6 separate regions of the Homo sapiens genome follow, and regions 1, 2, 4, 5 and 6 are each reported to be linked to region 3. Evidence: microRNA targets listed by miRTarBase, many of them from high-throughput screens and not tested one by one. Region 3 holds a microRNA gene; each other region holds the end of a gene's coding sequence.

Evidence for each region. Region 3 holds the annotated microRNA hsa-miR-6749-3p (CUCCUCCCCUGCCUGGCCCAG, at 2,103-2,123, opposite strand). A microRNA usually pairs through its seed, bases 2 to 8, with sites in the 3' UTR of a target mRNA and lowers its output. Matches are read on the target gene's strand: a 7mer-m8 pairs with bases 2 to 8, a 7mer-A1 pairs with bases 2 to 7 and ends in A, and an 8mer does both.
Region 1: the mRNA of PLGRKT is a reported target of hsa-miR-6749-3p. The part of its 3' UTR that is shown has no 7-base or 8-base seed match.
Region 2: the mRNA of NOL9 is a reported target of hsa-miR-6749-3p. Seed matches in the 3' UTR shown: 7mer-m8 at 2,021-2,027.
Region 4: the mRNA of PRR15 is a reported target of hsa-miR-6749-3p. Seed matches in the 3' UTR shown: 8mer at 2,194-2,201.
Region 5: the mRNA of LRRC3C is a reported target of hsa-miR-6749-3p. The part of its 3' UTR that is shown has no 7-base or 8-base seed match.
Region 6: the mRNA of CASTOR2 is a reported target of hsa-miR-6749-3p. Seed matches in the 3' UTR shown: 7mer-m8 at 936-942 and 7mer-m8 at 2,886-2,892.

Annotation. Positions count from the first base shown.
Region 1 is chr9:5,355,571-5,358,691 of GRCh38, forward strand. It overlaps PLGRKT (plasminogen receptor with a C-terminal lysine), which reads right to left. Exons shown (of 6, transcript NM_018465.4): 6 at 2,401-2,790. The coding sequence ends at 2,669. Among named protein-coding and RNA genes, the nearest start is that of RLN1, 17 kb to the left of the region's middle.
Region 2 is chr1:6,523,219-6,526,218 of GRCh38, forward strand. It overlaps NOL9 (nucleolar protein 9), which reads right to left. Exons shown (of 12, transcript NM_024654.5): 12 at 1-2,785. The coding sequence ends at 2,636. Among named protein-coding and RNA genes, the nearest start is that of NOL9, 30 kb to the right of the region's middle.
Region 3 is chr11:64,900,285-64,903,405 of GRCh38, forward strand. It overlaps MIR6749 (microRNA 6749), which reads right to left and starts at 2,171; the gene lies at 2,103-2,171. It overlaps ATG2A (autophagy related 2A), which reads right to left. Exons shown (of 41, transcript NM_015104.3): 26 at 3,004-3,080; 27 at 2,232-2,396; 28 at 1,976-2,102; 29 at 1,678-1,892; 30 at 600-808; 31 at 210-345. RefSeq lists an enhancer at 37-166.
Region 4 is chr7:29,566,254-29,569,374 of GRCh38, reverse strand. It overlaps PRR15 (proline rich 15), which reads right to left. Exons shown (of 2, transcript NM_175887.3): 2 at 2,082-3,121. The coding sequence starts at 3,045. The coding sequence ends at 2,656. Among named protein-coding and RNA genes, the nearest start is that of PRR15, 4.0 kb to the right of the region's middle. RefSeq lists an enhancer at 3,054-3,121.
Region 5 is chr17:39,944,390-39,947,510 of GRCh38, forward strand. It overlaps LRRC3C (leucine rich repeat containing 3C), which reads left to right. Exons shown (of 4, transcript NM_001195545.2): 4 at 1-610. The coding sequence ends at 345. Among named protein-coding and RNA genes, the nearest start is that of GSDMA, 17 kb to the right of the region's middle.
Region 6 is chr7:75,024,468-75,027,586 of GRCh38, forward strand. It overlaps CASTOR2 (cytosolic arginine sensor for mTORC1 subunit 2), which reads left to right. Exons shown (of 9, transcript NM_001145064.3): 8 at 1-67; 9 at 167-3,119. The coding sequence ends at 232. It also overlaps a transcript of RCC1L not described here. Among named protein-coding and RNA genes, the nearest start is that of RCC1L, 48 kb to the right of the region's middle.

The DNA.
Region 1 (3,121 bases), not on the chromosome of region 3:
ACCTGTTTCTTATCCTTCTCCTAATATACTTTCTCATATTTATTTCCTCATTCTTCTTGCAATATCACAAAAGTTTGTGATGATTATAAGCTAGTTTCTTATAGAAGACCATATAAGTTTCAGTATTTGGAAACATCAGATGTCTAGTTGGTAATTAGGGATTAATCATAAGCATAAATAAATATTTAATTAATATAAATGAAGAAATAGCTCAGAAGCATCACAGCAGAAATGTTTTTCCTTTCAACAAAAGGACAATGTAATAATGAGAGGAAAAGCTTTGGATAATCAGCAGTTATAACACTGAAAAATGTTACAACATACTTGTGCTGCATGGTCATTTTTAATAGCTCCACTTTGATTTTTGCCTCACTATACAATTGGGAGCAAACAACAGTATGAGTGTAAGTGTGTGCGTATGTTTTTCAGCAGGGCCTCTACTGAGGTAGAATTATTAATAAACTCAGTGTCAGTGCCAGAGGAAGAAGCCAAGAAGCCAATACAATTGAACAGCCTGGTGTTCTTAAGGGGGCCCAGGGCCTGGCTATGTTGCCAGCAATGAAAATCCCAGATAAGGTCTTGAGCCGATCAGCCTTTGCAGAGGCATCAAACCTACTCTTGGTGAGCTCTGGCTAGACTATATCAGGAACATTTGAATAGCATGATTGAATTGTGGGGAAAGAAATACAATTCCAGATTCTGGTGTGACCTACAACCAGCACTAGGTCTTGGGCATTCATGAGTCCACCAGTGTTCCTCCCAGTACTTCTTCTTTCCCATGTTCTCTAGGGGCCTTAGATAATCCACACAGATTAAAAATGCAGGGAAAACAACTCCCACTCTGTGACCTCAAACTGGTTTCCTGGTACTGCTATTCTCTATTTTCATAATCTTGAGTCCATTCCCAAGGCTGTAGCCTTAATTCAGGCCACTGGTCAGCACTCAGATGGATCATTGCAGCTCCTCATTACTTGGGATCTGGGATCTTTCCCCTCTAATCTACAAATTTGGGTAAAAATCCCGTTTTGCATTCTTTCACTGCTATCACCCTCAGGAAAGAGTCCAAACTGCTTGCTGTTACATCCAAGGCTCTTCAGGAATTGAATTGTACTTCCACCAGGATCATTTCTGAAAAAGTCTCCCACATGAGGAACCCCTTGCTGCAGCCAAATTGAATGACCTGCAGCAATTCCTTGGATTTGGCTTGCACGGTCCTGCCTTTGTTCAAGCTGCTTCTCCTGCTTGGGGCACCCTTCCTCTTCAATGTTTACCTTCATGGAGAACTTCTATGCATCCTTCAAGACTTGGCTCAAGTTTCTCTAAAGCTAAAATTGTAACAAAACACATGTTGATACGTTGTCAGCTCCTTGAAGGTAGGGACCACATCATATTCATGCTTGTTCCTACCTTAATATTTAATCTCCTATTATTCTTCCTGGGCTTCTTTCTATTATTTGGCCATGCCATGTCTCAGTTCAAATGTCACCTCTGCAAAGAGGCAGTGTCTGCAGTACCGATCTAAAGTAGCACCACCTCATTAACCCAATCATTCTCTTATCACTCTGTTTCATTTCCACTGAAGCATTTGCCAGGATTAGAAATGATCTTATTTATCTTGATGTTAATTTGTTGCCCGCCCCAATTATCCCACCCCTCACTAGAATATATTCCTCTGCCCAGGATATAGGACATTGTCTACTTATTCACCGATGTAGCTCTAGTGTCTACAACAGTGCCTGGCACAAAGTAGTATCAATAAATCTCTTTGGAATGAGCATATTATATGTAGGGTTCGCATCTGAAGAAATACTTATATATAGGAGTATTTTATGAGGAGTTTTCCCAGTGAGTCTAAATAAAAAGGCAGTCATCCAAATCTACCTCTCTCTTGTTTCCACCTCTCTAGCAACTATGCCCTGAGTCATTATTTGAATGTTGTTACCTTTTCCCTTTTATAGCTTTTCTTTGCAGGTTAAGCATCAGTTAAGGCCTTGTCAAGGCCTTTTAGAGCACAGCCACTGGAGCCACACTTGTTCAAATCCAAGCCCTGGCCAAGTATGGCTTTGGCCCAGCCAAATTGGATGACCTGCAGCAACTTCTTGGATTTGGCTTGCGTGCTTCTGCCTTTGTTCAAGCTGCTTATCTGTGCTTCAGTTTCCACATTTATAAAATGATTCCTGCTTCATAAAATTATTGGGATGATTACAAGAATTTGTACAAAACACTCAGAACAGTGCCAGTCATAGAAAATGCAGTATATATGTTAGTCAAACAATACTGTTTTCTGTCATGTAGGGGCAGGACACAATTGACAAATCCAAAATACAGAAGCATCTGTGGAAATGGAATGTGGTATGGAAAGTATGTGTGACAGAGAAATGAGAGCAGCTGGGCATTTGCTTCCAGGAATTCAAAACAATTTATTAATTTTACACTTAGATATTGGTAATGCACACAGAGAGAGGAAATCTAAAAGTTATTTAGAGCACCTCCATGATTTTGTGTTGAATGTTATAAATTTTATTTTAAAATAGCTCAAAACTATCTTGCATTTTAATATTTTAAAATAAAATCTATAATATCAAAATCTTGAGCATTTAAAAAACTGTAAAAACCATGATTCAAGTCAATAATTCTGTGCTTTGAGATTTGATTGGTAAGCATGATTTCATTTGTCTATGAAGAATCTACTCTGTTCCTTTCTGGCTTTTTCAATGCTTTCAAAAGTGATCATTCCTCTTGGCAGCTGCAATTTACTCTTTTCTGTTTCCAGTATGTCCTCAGCTTCACCTTAAATAAAGTACAGAAATACACAAGGTGACAAAGGGGTCATCAGCAATTTGTGACAAAGCCTGATTGCTATATTCCTTGACAGGCTCTAACACCGTATGAGCCATGTCCCCAATCTCACACTTAAACATTTTCCTCAGGAGAAGTAATATACTTCCCAGAGGAAACACAGTGATGAATTCTGAACACCCATAAATAAATCAGGAGCTACAGATGGTATTTTTGACATGTAGAAGAGAAAGAACATCAAGATAAGTAATTTTTTCCCTTGAACCAAAGTCAGGATTCGTATTAATTCTGTTTGGAGGGATTTGGGTAGAGAAACCACACA
Region 2 (3,000 bases), not on the chromosome of region 3:
CTGACCCATAACAGACTGTGGAAATGATAAAAAGTCCAATCTTGTCCTTCTTCTAAATGCCCTTAAAGCCACTGCCACCAGCCGGGTGCGGTGGCTCATGCCTGTAATCCCAACACTTTGGGAGGCCAAGGCAGGTGGATCACCTGAGGACAGGAGTTCAAAACCAGCCTGGCCAACATGGTGAAACCCCTTCTCTACTAAAAATAGAAAATCAGCCAGGCATGGTGGCGCATGCCTGTAATCCCAGCTACTCGGGAGGTTGAGGCAAGAGAATCACTTGAACCCGGGAGGCGGAGGTGGCAGTGAGCCCAGATTGCGCCACTGCACTCCAGCCTGGGCAACAAGAGCGAAACTCCATCTCAAAAAAAAAAAAAAAAAAAAAAAAGGATAAAAAGGCCACTGCCATCAATAATGGGATGAATTGTCATCCTGGAGAATGGTGCTGCTGCAGGTCTGACCGGCACAAGCTAGACCTGACAGAGGCCTTGGCTCCCTGTCTCCGAACCTCCTTCCCTAAACCCTGTACAGCTTCCTGGGCCAACTCTAGCCCCAGTACGGCCACCTGACCCACAGCTGATAGCTCCCTCTAGAGGCAACGATTTTTCTTTACTGATAGGGACTGAAGAAAAAGACTTGACCTTCATACAGGCCGCATTTAAAGCCTGAAGGCAAACCTAGATTGAATGCAAATGCAATTACAGGGCACCAGTTTCATTCTTCCAGAGCCTTGCTGCAAATGACCTCCAGTGAGTATAACTGTAAGATACACGAAAGTGGAGAAAGGCAAAACATTGATGGTGATGGATTGTCTTAAAATTCTTTACAAGGCCAGCACAGTAAAACATCATATGAATGAGCCAGATTTCAACATAAATAAGGGGCAACTAAGAAGCTAGACTCAATTGTCTCAAAGGTATCAAAACTAATCACCATAGCAAGGTTTCCTGTGCTTATTTTAAGTCCTTTGCTGTTGGGTCTAAGAGGTGCTGAGGGGCCACTGTAAAATACTAAAGACAATGATAACCAACAGTTGTATAAGTGTATATAAGTGTTAAAACCCACACATCCTAATAGTCTTACAATGTGATCATGCTGGGAAGATGGAATTCTGTCAAAGCGGTGGTCACAATACCAGTTTGAACCTCAGCCCCAGGAAGTATCCTGCTGTCTTAAATGCAGAAATGATGTGACCTGGTCCCATCACCCGTTTACACAAACCACTTCCAACCTAGAGGACAGAGTCGGAAGCACCAGGGAGAACGTGGAGAATGGCAGTCTGGTCACCAGCCGCCGGCACCCCCAGGAAAAAGCTCTAAATGGCAGGGTTGTTCATAGGTGCAAGTTCAGGTCCAGCCTCCCACAGGCAATAATGGAGCTTTCCCAAGAGCTGGTCTGCCAGTCCTTCTTCCTTCAAAACAGCCCAGTCTCCAGCTCTGCCCTGTGGTTGTCTCTGGCCTCAGATCAGAAGTCAATTTGGACAAATCTACTTTTATAAGAGCCCCCAGAAGAGGTTTTCCAGATTATTATTTTTTTTTTTTGAGATGGAGTCTTGCTCTTGTTGCCCAGGCTGGAGTGCAGTGGCGTGACCTCGGCTCACTGCAAGCTCCGCCTCCTGGGTTCATGCCATTCTCCTGCCTCAGCCTCCTGAGTAGCTGGGACTATAGGCGCCCACCACCACGCCCAGCTAGTTTTTTGTATTTTTAGTAGAGACGGAGTTTCACTGTGTTAGCCAGGATGGTCTCAATCTCCTGACCTCGTGAACCGCCTGCCTTGGCCTCCCAAAGTGCTGGAATTACAGGCGTGAGCCACTGCGCCTGGCCCCGAGGTTTTCCAGATTTGAAAGAAATTTCCTCAGCATAAAACCTCAGGATTAAAAAAAAGGAAGGGCTCTTGGGTCCAAATTTATATCTATCAAACCCGTTTAAATTTTTCTTTTCTTTTTTAAAAGATAAGGTCTTACTCTGTCGCTCAGGCTGGAGTAGTTGGTGTACTCCAGCCTGGAACTCCGAGGCTCAAGCAATCCTCCCGCCTCAGCCTCCCAAAGTGCTAGGATTACAGGTGTGCATGAGCCACCATGCCCAGCCCTATCTATTAAACCTTGATTGAATATAACAGACCAAGTACAACTGCACCAAATGGATGGGCTGTAACCATCCACACTGGCTCCAAGGAAGCAGACCGCTGGACCCCAGCTCTGCACATGGCTCAGGCAAGGCCCGTGGCGAGCCCTTGTATCCATTATGCTTGAGATCCTGCAGGTCGGCCTTCTTCCTTCCTTCTCGGTACATTGTAATGGCCCCAGTTTCCTTATTTTTATCCTGATTCTAATAACCAGGTCCCTGAAGAACTTTCTGAGGAATCTCTGTTTTAATGGCACACAAACTGTTCTCTGCTGTTTTACTCCCTCTGGACAGCAAGTATGAGTATCACACAGAAGACTAGAACAAATTCTAGCTCATGCAGCTTTAAAAGAGAAACTTAAGACTACTATATGACATTCACGAATTACACAAAAAACACTGTTGCTAATAAGGGCACCATTCATGGCCATGAAACTCCATCATGTCTCTTGTGGTCAGGCTTGAGACAAAGCTTTCTGGTAGGAAAGTTTCTTCCCTTATTAAAAACGCGAGCATCACTTCATTTTTCGACAGAACTTAGGTCTTCGGTATGGTTTCTCTTTATGTGCCTCCTCAGGTTCTCTTGCTCCAATTTTCTCTGATGCTCCAGGAAGTTTAAAATTGTAATCCGTTGTGACATAAGGTACTGTCCCTTCGATCCCACGCTGAAACGGAAACACAGAGAATGCATGGAAACACTCCAGGTCCAGCCCAGAGGGGTTTACAGTGCTCTCTCACACCTAGAAGGCAGTGTCATGGTGATGGTCTGGGTGGGGACTTCTCACTTTTAAGGCATTTGATCCCTTCCTTCAGAGCCCCCTTTAATCAACTGGCTCGGTAACAAACGTGCCAAGGCCTCCCTTCTGTCCCATTCCATCAA
Region 3 (3,121 bases):
AGCACACCTGTCTCCTCCACCCCTGCAGACTCTCCCCTGAGCGCTCTTCACCATCGGACACACTCGATACATCTTGGTCCCTGCCTGGCTTCCTCCACTACAAAGGCAGGGGTTTTCCTCTGCATTAGTCATTGCTACACGTGACATCGAGAACAAGGCCCGTTGTTCTATGACACACACGTGTAGTAGGCACTCGCCACCCCACTCACCTTGCTCAGCTGGATCTCCATGAGGACATGGTGCTGCCGCCCGCTGCCCCCCTGCGTGCGCCATGAGTTCTGGGGCCGGTTGGGGCCAGAGCAGCGGGAAGGGGAGCTCCTGGGACCTGAGAGGCCAGTTCTTGCCCTGGGAAGAGGGACAGGGGCCAAGCTGACTCAGAGGAACCCCATTCCCTCCCCGTCCTCAGCGGGCCTTTTAGCCTGGGACAAGAGACCCCCGCTAGCCCCAGTCCTGGAAGGCAGGCGGGATAAGGAAGGATGAGGAAACTGAGGCCCACCTGGGGTGGATGGGGCTCAAGGTCTCCAGCTGCTGAAAGTCAGACCTGGACCAGCCTGAGCCCCAACCTTCACCAGCTGCCACCTGCACCCGCTCCTCCTCACCTGTGGCCGGGGTGGGGGCCAAAGTCTCGGCCCCCATAGAGGTGCCAGACGAGGGAGACCTCACGTAGCACCACCCGAGTGCTGGGCACTGGGAAATGGGCAGGTGCCCGCAGCAAGTCCGTGCTGCCGATCGGCCGTGAGAAGTAACCGTCCCTCACAACGATGGGGCCGGGATGCAGCTGTGTCACCACAGGCTCCCCATCTCGGGGCTGCAGGGAGGCCAGGTAGACGTGTGACACAGATGTTCGATCCAGCCCAGCTGCCCCCAGCCCCAGCAACCTGGCCTCACTTCTTTTTCATTTTTTTTTTTTTATAGACAGGGTCGGGTCATGTTCGGTCACCCAGGCTGGAGTGCAGTGGCACAATCACAGTTCACTGCAACCTCTGCCTCCTAGGCTCAAGCGATCCTCCATTCTCAGCCTCCTGAGTAGCAGGGACTGCAGACATGTGCCACCATATCTGGCTAATTTTATTTTTATTTTTTGTAGAGACGGGGTCTCACTATGTTGCTCAGGCTAATCTCTCATTGCTGGACTCAAGCAATTCTCCCACCTTGACCTCCCAAATTGCTGGGATTACAGGCGTAACCTACCATGCTTGGCCTCCTCCCTGTTTTTGATGAAAGATGACACTCCTGGGTTGCTATCACCCGAGTCTATGCCTGAGTGGTCTGTCCAAGAGGAGCCTGAGAATGCCAGGCTCCTGCCAGCCCTGCCTCCTAAGACCTGGGTGAGTTCAGACATTCCCACTGGCCCTTGCAGCCACATGGTTCTCCATCCCTCTTGCTAACTGCCCTCTCCTCTTCCTCCATCCCTTGAATTTCCCAGTCCCTCTGCCCAAAACACCAGGCCTCCTCTTCCTCTGGAAATCCCCCTACTCCATCAAAGCCCAGCATCAGGGCTGCCTCCCTAGGGTGGCACAGACCTAGCACCACCCCCGAGGTGATGGCAACCACCTCCTGCCTGCTTCTCTCACCACGGGAGCTCCAGATGGCCAGGCAACCACCCCTGAGTGTTCCGTCCCCGCTCCAAACACACCTGCCTGGACGGCAAACTGGTCCATCCCTCCCACCACGCACCGGGATGCCCAGGCCGGGAGCATCAAGGATGCAGAACTCATCACTGTCCAGGGTGTCTCCATCGCCCTCCTCTTCCCTTTCATCTTCCTTCTCCTCTGAGCATGACCCTAAGCTGCCAGCAGGGCCCCCGACAGGTGGTGAAGGGGGTGGGGCCCCACTCCGTTCACCTGGGAATAGGTAGACGGAGATGGGCGACGCCTGAGGGAGGTGGCCACCTATAGGAGAGAGGCCAGTTTGGAGAGGCGCCCACAGTGGGTGCCTGACTGTGTCTGCTGTCCCCACAGCACCCCCACTTCACCTGAAGGCTGGGCCAGCTCCCGTAGGCTGCGCTCGGTGTCCAGGAGGGCGTCGGCCAGGTCACGCTGGTTGATGAGGGCCGTCTCCACTGGGGGGCACGAGGGCAGAGAGGCAGGACTCTCCGAGAGCTGGGCCAGGCAGGGGAGGAGCAATGAGTGAGACAGGACAGAGCTCCCCCAACCCCAGGCCCGAGGGCCATGGCAGGGGAGGGGCCTGGCCGAGCTCTGGTAGCCTGTGTGGCCAGGCCTCACCTGTACCTTCTGGCCGGCGATCTCCGTGGGGCTGGGGGGCCGGGGTGGGGGGTGCAGATCGCCTGTGCTCATTACGTACTGGAGCAGGTTGACCAGCAGGGCACAGGAGTCGGCACAGCTGTGCACGTGTACCACATTGTTGGAGCAGCGCAGCTCGAATAGTGGCTGGCTCTGCAGGGGCGGGGTGGGGGGAGCAGCTATGTGAACACAGGGGCCACTGCCTGCTGGCCCCACCCGCTCGCTGGGAGGGCACCGCAGTTCTGATCCTGCCACAGGCAGAACAGGGATGGTCTCTCCTGGAGTGGATGACCTGCCCAGTAACTCCACTGAACAGATGAACAAACTGTTCACCCAGAGGGTGAAAGGGGCTTGGCCCAGGGCCATCCAAGGAAGCAGGAGTGTGCCCACCCACCCTACCCCACTCCCCGTGAAGGGCTCTGCATGCCTAGCGAGGCAGGGCAGGTTATCTCCATCTTACAGGAGATGAATCCGGGGACCTACAAAGGTGGCTGATTCCCAGGGCCTCGCTGGTGCCCTGGCTGCCGCGTCCTCTGGTGGCAGGGCTGAAACCCATTCATTCATTCAGCCAGCATCAAGGGACACCCCCACCAGGGCTGTACTATGGCCCTTTGCAGGAGGGGCGCTAACTGCAGCCCAGGAAGGGCAGGCATGAACTGTGTCCGGAGCCCAGGCACGTGAGGGAGCAGCAGCCCCTGAAGACTCCCTTGGCCCCTGCACCTGCTGTGGCTCCAGGAGCCAGAGTGACAGCCTCACTCACCAGTTTGCCCTCGGTGCTCCCTTTCCAGGTTTTAATCACAAGTTCCAAGAGGTCAACATCCAAAACACAGACATAATCTGCAGCAGAGGCGAGAGAAAGGTCCTGTGGCCCCCTTCCA
Region 4 (3,121 bases), not on the chromosome of region 3:
ATTTTGCTTGGTTTCTGATTTCACTGAGTTGGGATTAAATCAGTGTATTCCTCCCACTGCATAATTTAGGACTGCTTTAAAACGATGTAATTACAAACCTCAATGGCAGATTGTGAATTGCATTCACTGTCATAACTGCATTAGTATGGTTTTAAATTCTTTCAGAACAGTGGGGTAAAGATGTCATGTTAATATGGTAATAAGTTCCATTGCTCTACTATATGTCTGCTATTGATTATCTGCAGCAATTGTAGATTTGGATGGGATCCAAAATTAGACACAGAACCTTGAAACTTGCCAATGTTTTGTTCATCTACAGTAATTTTAAAGAAAAAAGTTCTTTAAAACAATAAAACTGGATGAAAGGGTTAGTATAGGATTTTAAACTTATGTAATTGCAGACTTAATTTTATAAATAGGTACAGTCCTGATCTATCGGTCTTCCTGAAGGAGGGAGAGAACATTTTGGGTAGTTACCTACTCTAATTTTGATTACTTTCTACGGAGTGAAATTGAAATACTTTTTGAAGGTTTTCCAAAGCCTTATTTGACAACATTTGCTATATTCACTCCCGTTGCTCTGCCAACCCCCAATCCTGTCCCTTATCATGAATTCTTTTTTCATGCCAAGTCTCAATTCCCTCTTCTTTTTCTGAATCTAGAGATGGTAGGCCCATTTAAACTGAATGTAGTCTGCCTCATCCAGGAAGCCCACCTGGATGAGATTTTGGTCACACACTTTCCAGTTTTACGTATACAATGAAAATGTCTTTTCATGCTTAAAAAAGTCCTCTCACATACTTTCTTTTAATTTAAGGTGTTCATAACCTCTAGATATACACTTTCCTTTAGTGTAAGGCCTTTGGTATGTGGAAACTCATGTATCAAAATTAGCTGTATTATTCTGCTGGCACCAAAGCTTGATTCATTAATTTAAATTCATTTCAGCCATCTTCATCAAATTTCTTTGTTAAATTTCTTTTAACAATCGAACTGTTTTGCTACTTTATAAATTACTAATTTGGGAGAAACAAAAAAATAGCTTGTCTACATATACAAATCGAGAAGCTATAATTAAGTTCCTGCTTGTCATTATCTACAAAGATATACACTTTGATCAATATAATTTTCCTGCCATGCATTTCTGGGTGTTTATAAATGAACTGAATTGTGGTGGGAAAAGATCCCAGTGCCTCTTAACGACTACAATAACTCTCTTGTAATTTTCTCAAAGCAAATGGTATTCGTTTACTCTTTTTCTTGAAGTTCATAATAAAAGCGAACAGCTTTTTGTTAAGAATCTTCAGGTTGTTAGATCTAAAGGGTCTGAAACTAGATAAATGCATACTTTAAGGAAATAAGCTTTTAAAGCAAAGGGGTGGGGAAAATACCCCCACCTCTTTAGCTGCGCAGAGTTCAGTCTTTTTTTTTTTTGAGATGGAGTCTCCTTCAGATGCCCAGGCTGGAGTGCAGTGGCACGATCTCTGCTCACTGCAACTTCTGTCTCCCAGGTTCAAGCAATTCTCCTGTCTCAGCCTCCCGAGTAGCTGGGACTACAGGTGCCTGCCACCACGCCCGGCTAATTTTTGTATTTTTAGTAGCGACAGGGTTTCACCTTTTTGGTCAGGCTGGTCTTGAACTCCTGACCTCAGGTGATCCACCTTCCTAGGCCTCCCAAAGTGCTGGCATTACAGACATCAGCCACCGTACCTGGCCTTGTTTTTTGATTTTAGACAATCGTTAGTAAGTTTAACAATGGATACTGAAAAGGATGTATTACTAGCATTGTAACTTACTATAGTCTATGAAAATGCACTGAAGTAAAAGGTGAATTTAGGAATAATGAATTGGTACCTCTCTCCCTTCCTCGAATTTGGCTGATAAATAGGGATATCTGGCTAACAAGTTCCAGTCCAGGTGTTGCTGGTTTCCAGAAATATTCTCTTCCCTGCAGCTTTCCACTAGTCACTGTTATGTTGTGTGGCAAATGATTAACTCTCACCTCGGACTTTGCCTGCCTGCTTTTAAGTATGATGGGATTCAGTCTTGGAATGGAAAAAATACAAAAGTCACCTTAAGCCTTACAGTGCAAGGGTTTTAATAGTCCACACTAAAATAGGCTGTACAGTTTTGTAGTTTAACATTAAAAGCAATCCTGCCTTATTTTAAAATGCTTCTACTTAAGAATGCTTCTTCCTCCCCCACTCCTTCACTTAAGGTATAAGTCTACCCCTAAAGTGCATTTCTCAGGCATTAAAAACAGCACTGTGATTTGCTTTCCACAGAGTCCTAAATAACAGCCACCTTCTTCATTTGAGAGGCTACAGAGTTCAAGCTGAGCTGTGACAGGAGCCAGGGGGCCAGGGCCCCAGAATAGCTTTTTGAAAAAAAAATAATTATGCCACCCTCCTCCGCGGCAGGTATCTTCTCTTACCACAAATAAATATTTAATGCATCCTTGGAGTCATGAAATATTGAGAACCCAATTGACACTTCAATTTCCAGAAAAATAAAATCATGAAGGCATTGTGTAAATATTCTGAATTTGGTGGAATGAGACAACGCGTAAGGGGGCGGGCCTGAAGTCTCGGGTTTGGAACTGGGGGTTTGGGGTAGTGCTGGGTAGGCAGTCCTGGAGCGCGCAGGCTATTGGGGCTACTGCTTGTCCTCGTGGGGGTCACCAGGAAAGCCTGCCTCCTCCGGGGACCTGCCCGCCTCCGGGAGCAGCGTGGCGCGCACTTTCCTCTTCTCCTTAAAGCGGCCGGAGCGCGAGATCTTCAAATTGCGGCGGCTGCTGCCGGATTTGTCCCCGTATAACTTGTCTGGTTTGGGGGGCTCGCCGGCGCCCCCGAGGAGATTGGGGTGCTGGTTCTCCCGGGAGCTGCTGGTCCAGTCCGGGCTGGGCGGCGCAGGTGGCGTGGGCTCCCCGGGAGCGGGCTGGGCGGGAGGCGGCACCCCCACTGCGGCTTCCTTGCTTTTCTTTCTGCTGTTGGTGAGCGATTTCCACCAGGGGCCGGAGCTGCCAGCATCGCCGCTGTCGGCCATGGCCGGAGGGCCTAGGGGCTCCCGGCACCCAGATGGAAGGGCCAAAGCGGCCCCTTTCTCCACGTGGTCTCCGGCC
Region 5 (3,121 bases), not on the chromosome of region 3:
TGGCACTGTGACTGCGCCCTCCAGGAAGTGCTCCGGCAGGTGAGGCTGGTGCCGGGCACTGGGACAGGCATCGTGTGTGGCTCAGGAGCCCGACCGGACCTCGTGGGGCAGGAGTTCCTGCTGCTGGCAGGGGAGGAAGAGCTGTGTGGGTCGGGGTGGGGTGGGGCCCGGAGGAGCACCGATGTGGCCCTGCTGGTCACCATGGGGGGCTGGCTGACACTCATGGTGGCTTATCTGGTGCATTATGTGTGGCAGAACCGAGATGAGACCAGGCGCTCCCTCAAGCGGGCCCCAGTGCTGCCCGTGCGTTCCGAGGACTCCTCCATCCTCAGCACAGTGGTCTGATGACCCAGGATGCTCCTCCAGCCACACCCCACACTCCTGCCCCTATGCCCTCTCCTTTGCTCTGACCCCCTCTGCCTCCTGTGCAGCTTCACCCCTGCCCCCAAGCCCATCCCACCCCTCCCTCCTTTATTCCCCCTAAATACCTGTGCTGGTTCTCTCTCTCTCTCTCTGTGTCGTCTTAACCAACACCATCTTTGGTGCCTGGAGTTTTTTGGTGCCTACTCTGTGCCTGGATTGTGCTAGACTCAGAAAACCCATAACAGAGAATGACAGCAGGTGGGGTGGGAGCAAGGGAGGAGGGGCTGTGGGGGGGCAGGTTGAGGAGGGAGCCTGCACCTGGCCCAGGGCGATTTCAAAGGCTTCGCTGTAGGATGTTTGAACTGATTCTTTTTTTTTTGAGATGGAGTCTCACTGTGTCAGCAGACTGGAGTGCAGTGGCAGGATCTCCGCTCACTGCAACCTCTGCCTCCCAGGTTCAAGTGATTCTCCTGCCTCAGCCTCCTGAGTAGCTGGGACTACAGGCGCGCGCCACCACGCCCAGCTAATTTTTGTATTTTTTAGTAGAGTTGGGGTTTCACCATGTTGGCCAGGATGGTCTTGATCTCTTGACCTCGTGATCTGCCCGCCTTGGCCTCCCAAAGTGCTAGGATTACAGGCGTGAGCGCGCCAGGCCCGAACTGACTCAGGTGGGTGGATCACCCAAGGCAGCACGCAACGTGAACCCCTTGGGCGATTACAGGCCCACACAGCCCGTCCACCACCAGCTTCTTCCTGCCCTACAGAGCTGAGGCCTGGAGTGGCAGAGAAAGCCAAGGGTACCCTGAGGGAGCCCCCAGCTGAGGGGGAGTGAAGCCCCACCCTTTCCTGAATTGGGCTCACAAACAGAGGCTTCGAGAGCGCAACTCTAAGACTGAGGTCTCCTACAGAGTGAGGGGCATCAAAGCGAGAGGCAACCCGGGGAGCTTATTCCAAAGGGAGGGACTGCCTCCCCCATTGGACTAAAGGGAGTTCAAACTGCTAGAAATGATTTTGCCTTAGGTCTCTGAGAATCTGCCATCATCAACCTCTCTTACCTCCAAGGAACCCATCTCTACTAAAAATACAAAAAATCAGCCGGGCGTGGTGGCAGGCACCTGTAATCCCAGCTACTCATGAGGCTGAGGCAGGAGAATCACTTGATCCCAGGAGGTTGAGGTTGCAGTGAGCTGAGATCACACCACTGCACTCCAGCCTGGGCCACAGATCGAGACCTTCTCTAAAAAAAAAAAAAAAAAGAACAGGGAGAGCTTTGGACAGAAAAGCAAGAGCAGAGAAGGCCCCTAGATGAAAGGTGTGGACAAGGCAAGGAAGATGTGCAACAACTCAGAATGTCTGGGCAGCAGCAAGACTCACCCTGGGGCTGGAAGAGAGGGTGCAAAGAGGGGCAAGGGGAAGGTGGGTGGAACCAAGCTGGAGGCGAGGTCAAAAGCCAGGCTGTGGCCAGATTTAAAAGGACACTGTGGGCTCCTCCTGTCTTCTCCCTCCGCCTCTACTGAGAGCCTCCCCTGGCTTCTTGCTTCTCTTGTCCCCAGGCTCCTCTTCCTCCTGTGCCCTCTACTGAGGATCCCCTCCTCCGACTCAAGGTCCCTAACCAGAGACTCCCTATTTCTCTCCGTCCTCTCCTTTATACACTGATTAGTTTCCTGAGCTCCTTCTTCTGGGGGGAAGGTGGTCTCCTCTATGACTGAGCTGGGGATGGGTGACTGCAGAGCTGGGGGAAGTAAGGAGACCCTGGACAACTCAATAAAGTCACTTTTATCAATGCTCCGATCTCGTATTGCTCATTTTCCTGGGCACCTGTGGCCTGTTGGTGAAGAGAACGGGTGCTGAGCTTGTCTTCAGCCCCTCCACCACCCCTTTGGTCGGGGGTGCTCCTGCTGGGCTGGAGGCCAGCTTCCCATCTCCCCTTCTGCTCCCCAGCCCCTGCCACCAGAGTCCATCTGCTGGACTGGCCAGGACTGTGCCGACACACTCAGAGCGGCTCCTGCATGGAACGACTGCCCCAGAATCCCGGACTGCTCCCTCTGCATCCTGACCCCGGGCTTGTGCTTGTCCACTGGGCAGGCAGGAGGGGGTGACGTAACTGGCTTCACTCCCATCCTCACCTCTGCCATGGACCAGGGATCACAGGACCCTGGGTTTTGAGAAACCACGGAAGCCTGGTGAGGCAGCTGGACAGCCTCGGTGATGTTGCCCGCATCTGCCCTTCTGCCTGGGACAGAGGGAGAGAAAAGGCACGCTCTTCTGGGAGACACACTGTGTCAGTCCCAAACTCTCCCACCAGGAAATGCTGGAACCTGGCTCAGGAACCAAGACAGCCCAGCCTACAGCTAACCCAGGCCTGAGGCAAGAGTTCCCGCGGCCTGGGCCCAGGTCCCAACTTGTCACCACATGCAGCATCAGGGAGCCAGTGGGCTGTGATGAGAGGAGAGGGAGAGGCCTAAAACTGCCTTTGCAAAATGATGACTGAGACAGTGAAAGAGATTTAACTTAACTGATTCCATCTTGCTTTTAACCTCCAAGCTGTCCCCGCTCATTCCTAGGCATAGGCTGAACTAACTTTGGGAAAAACTTAGTTTATAGTTTAAACAAAGACAGTAACAGCCCTTTCCCAAAGCAGACCTCCTTCTTGCCTGGGGACTAGATTGCCTTTGTAGAACTAACATTAGCCACAAGATCAGAAATTATGGTTTAGGAGTCGTGCCGCTGGAGGCTCCCTAAACTGCTCCGAAGATCA
Region 6 (3,119 bases), not on the chromosome of region 3:
AGAGCCCTTGGCTGCTGCAGACATCCCAGCCTACTACATCAGTACTTTCAAGTTTGATCATGCACTTGTGAGTGTCCAGCGCCAGACCCCTCCAGGGCAGGGCCGGGGTGGGGAAGCAGGTTCCTGGGCTCACGGGCAGGCATCTGCCTCCTCTACCCCTGCACAGGTCCCCGAAGAGAACATCAATGGTGTCATCAGTGCCCTGAAGGTCAGCCAAGCAGAGAAGCACTAGAAGGGTCTCTTCTGCTCCTCCCTGCCGCCGCCCGGGCCCAGCCCTAACCCTGAAGATTGATCTTGCAGTATTTCTCTACAGACTGGAAAATCAGCCTGGGGACCCTGAGGAAGGGGCCTCTGTGGGAGACTCCCTCGATTGCCAATCCCTCCAGGGCAGGGGCCCACGCCAAGGCCTCTCCATGCCCTCCTGCCTTCCCGGAGCCCCCCGACCCTCCAGAGAACGACCTTTCTCTTCCCTACCTCCCCCACCCCGGAAAATGCTTTCGGAGGCCCAGGGAGCTTGTGAGCTGATCCGCCTTCTCATCCGGCCTCACCCACGGCCAGGGGCAGATGCCGAGGGAAGCCGGTCCCTCCTGCGAGACACCGGTGTGCCAGCTGTCATGTCACCTTGCAGGGCTGGGGCTGGCGGGGTGGGGCCGAGTTTGGGGTGCCCTGGAGGGTTTGGGGGTGAGTACTGTGGTCACTGGTCTCTGCTTCCATCAGCTCAGGGCTGGTTCCCTCGGAGTGGAGGCCAGCGTGGCCCCCTCAGGTCATCGGGGCTGGTGAGGCTCAGACAGGAACCCAGGTGGGATCCCCGAGCTGGGAAGGACCCAGACTCCCCCTGTACCTCGCCTGCCAACCACAGGGCCTGGGCCCGACTCCCAGCAAGACTGCCAAGAGGGCCCTGTCCAGACCCTCCCCCACAAGCACTCAGTCCTTGGGGGAGGAGGGAGGGTCCCAGGAGACCCACCAGCCTGGAGCACCAGCTCCTGTCCCCTCGGCTCTCCCTGGACCCGACTTGGGCAGGTAGAGCCTCAGCTTCCCCCAGTAGGGACATCCCTGGCTTTCCAGGCCTGAGGTTTCTTAGGTGGTGTCCCACCTCCCCAACAGACAACTAGACCAGCATAGGACTCCCCGCCGTCCTCCTCCCTCCTCTGCCCCCAAGTCACCTGCCTGCCCACCCGCCCCTTGGCTGGGGGCTGTGGCATTCATGAGTACTTGACCCAGGAGGCAGCTTAACTGAGCCTTAATAGAGAAAACCATACTTTGTTTTAGTTTTTTATTTAATGTATTTGCACCCAGGGTGCTCTTGGCGGTAGTTTCTGTTTGGCAGGGATAGGACCTGTTTGAGTTCTGTCAAGGGAGCCTGGAGGCTCTGTGTCACTAAGCTGGTGCTCTGTGGCTCCAGGGACAGGCAGTGGGAATCGGGAGATGTCACAGGAGCCTGGGCCCTCTCTTCTGAAGGGAAGCTAGGAGCAGAGATCTGTTACAAGACGCTGGAGCCGCTGGCACCCCACATGGGAACTCCCACCAACCAGCTGTAGTTCTATCTGAGCACCGGAGGGGGTGAGGGAACCCGAGGGCCATGGGGAGGTGGACAGCCAGGTGGCAGGCCAGCTGAGTGGTCATGTCCAGGAGGCATGGGGTTAGCCGTGGTGTCCCTTCCAGTGGGGTGGTTTTCTGAATGAGCAGGACCAAGGGCCCCTGTGGTTTTGGCTCTGGCGGGGGTTTTTTTTTTTTTTTTTGAGATGGGAGTCTGGCTCTGTTGCCTAGGCTGGAATGCAGTGGCACGATCTTGGCTCACTACACCCTCCTCCTCCCAGGTTCAAGTGATTCTCCTGCCTCGGCCTCCCAAGTAGCTGGGATTACAGGCACGCACCACCACGTCTGGCTAGTTATTGTATTTTTTAATAGAGACGGGATTTCGTAACATTGCTCAGGCTGGTCTTGAACTCCTGAGTTAAGTGATCCGCCTGCCTCGGCCTCCCAAAATGCCGGGATTACAGGCGTGAGCCACCACACCCAGCCGAGTTGTGCTGTTTCTGTGGTCAGAGGAGAAGGGATATTTTCTAGTCCTGACAAAGTGTTCCCTGCTTCTCTGAGTGGGACCCTCTGAGCCCTGGAAGCCCACCAGAAGGAGAAGCTGTTCTTTAAAATCCTTGTGGGTGTTGAAGGCCCACCACATTAATTAGAAACCAACTTTTTTTTTTTTAAGTTAATTTGTTTTGCACAAAACTCCAGAACAAAACTCGTACATTGCTGGTCCCAAAAGGGAGGTGGCCAAGTGGGGCAGGGCTGTGGTGGAAGCCCTGAGTCCCCTTTCTGACCTTGCAAGGCCTTGATTTTCCTTTCTGTCATTTCCCCCTGACGGTGTCACTTCTCTGCCTTTCCTTCCCGCCGTGCAAGTGTGTCGGCCCCGTGACCCCAGAGTCGTGTGTCCCCTAGACTTCCTAGGACGTATCTATTGTACACACCTATAAATACCTGTGTTTTATGTTGATAGAGATATATACTGTAAATAGCATATATACTTGAGCAATATATATGTTAATATATACTGTGTGCGCAGTCCGTGGACACAGCCCCCCGCTGTGTGTGCACACGTGTATGGGCGTGATGGCCTCCACCCCGCACCGTCTGCCATACACGCGGGCACATTTGAGCCACCATATATTTTTAATTCAAGTATATAGGCAATACGATTATTACAGAAGCCGATGGGTTCCCTCAGACCTGACTTGAGAGAACAAAGCCAGCAGCTCAAAGAGCCTGTGACATGGGACGTGGGAAGGGTGCTGAGAGCCCGCTGTGGCGTGGGTCATGCCTTCTGCACCCCACTTTCCCCAGGCAAGATCCCTGGGCGCCCTTATTTGGGGGGATGTTGATCCCGAGGGAGGAGTATTTGGAATTTCTTGCTTTTAACCAGAATGCCCCCTCTCCCCTGCCCTCGCCAGCAGCCTCACCCTGAAGACCTGGGCCTGCTGAATGGGCCACACGCTGCCTGTGTCCTGCCTCCGTGGGTGGCACTTTTTACGCAGGCAGCTTCTCTGTTTTTTTTGTTTTTTGTAACCTGCAAGCTTAGAAATCTCAGGTTGTGCTCCTGGGGCTGCTCCTGGGGACTGGCC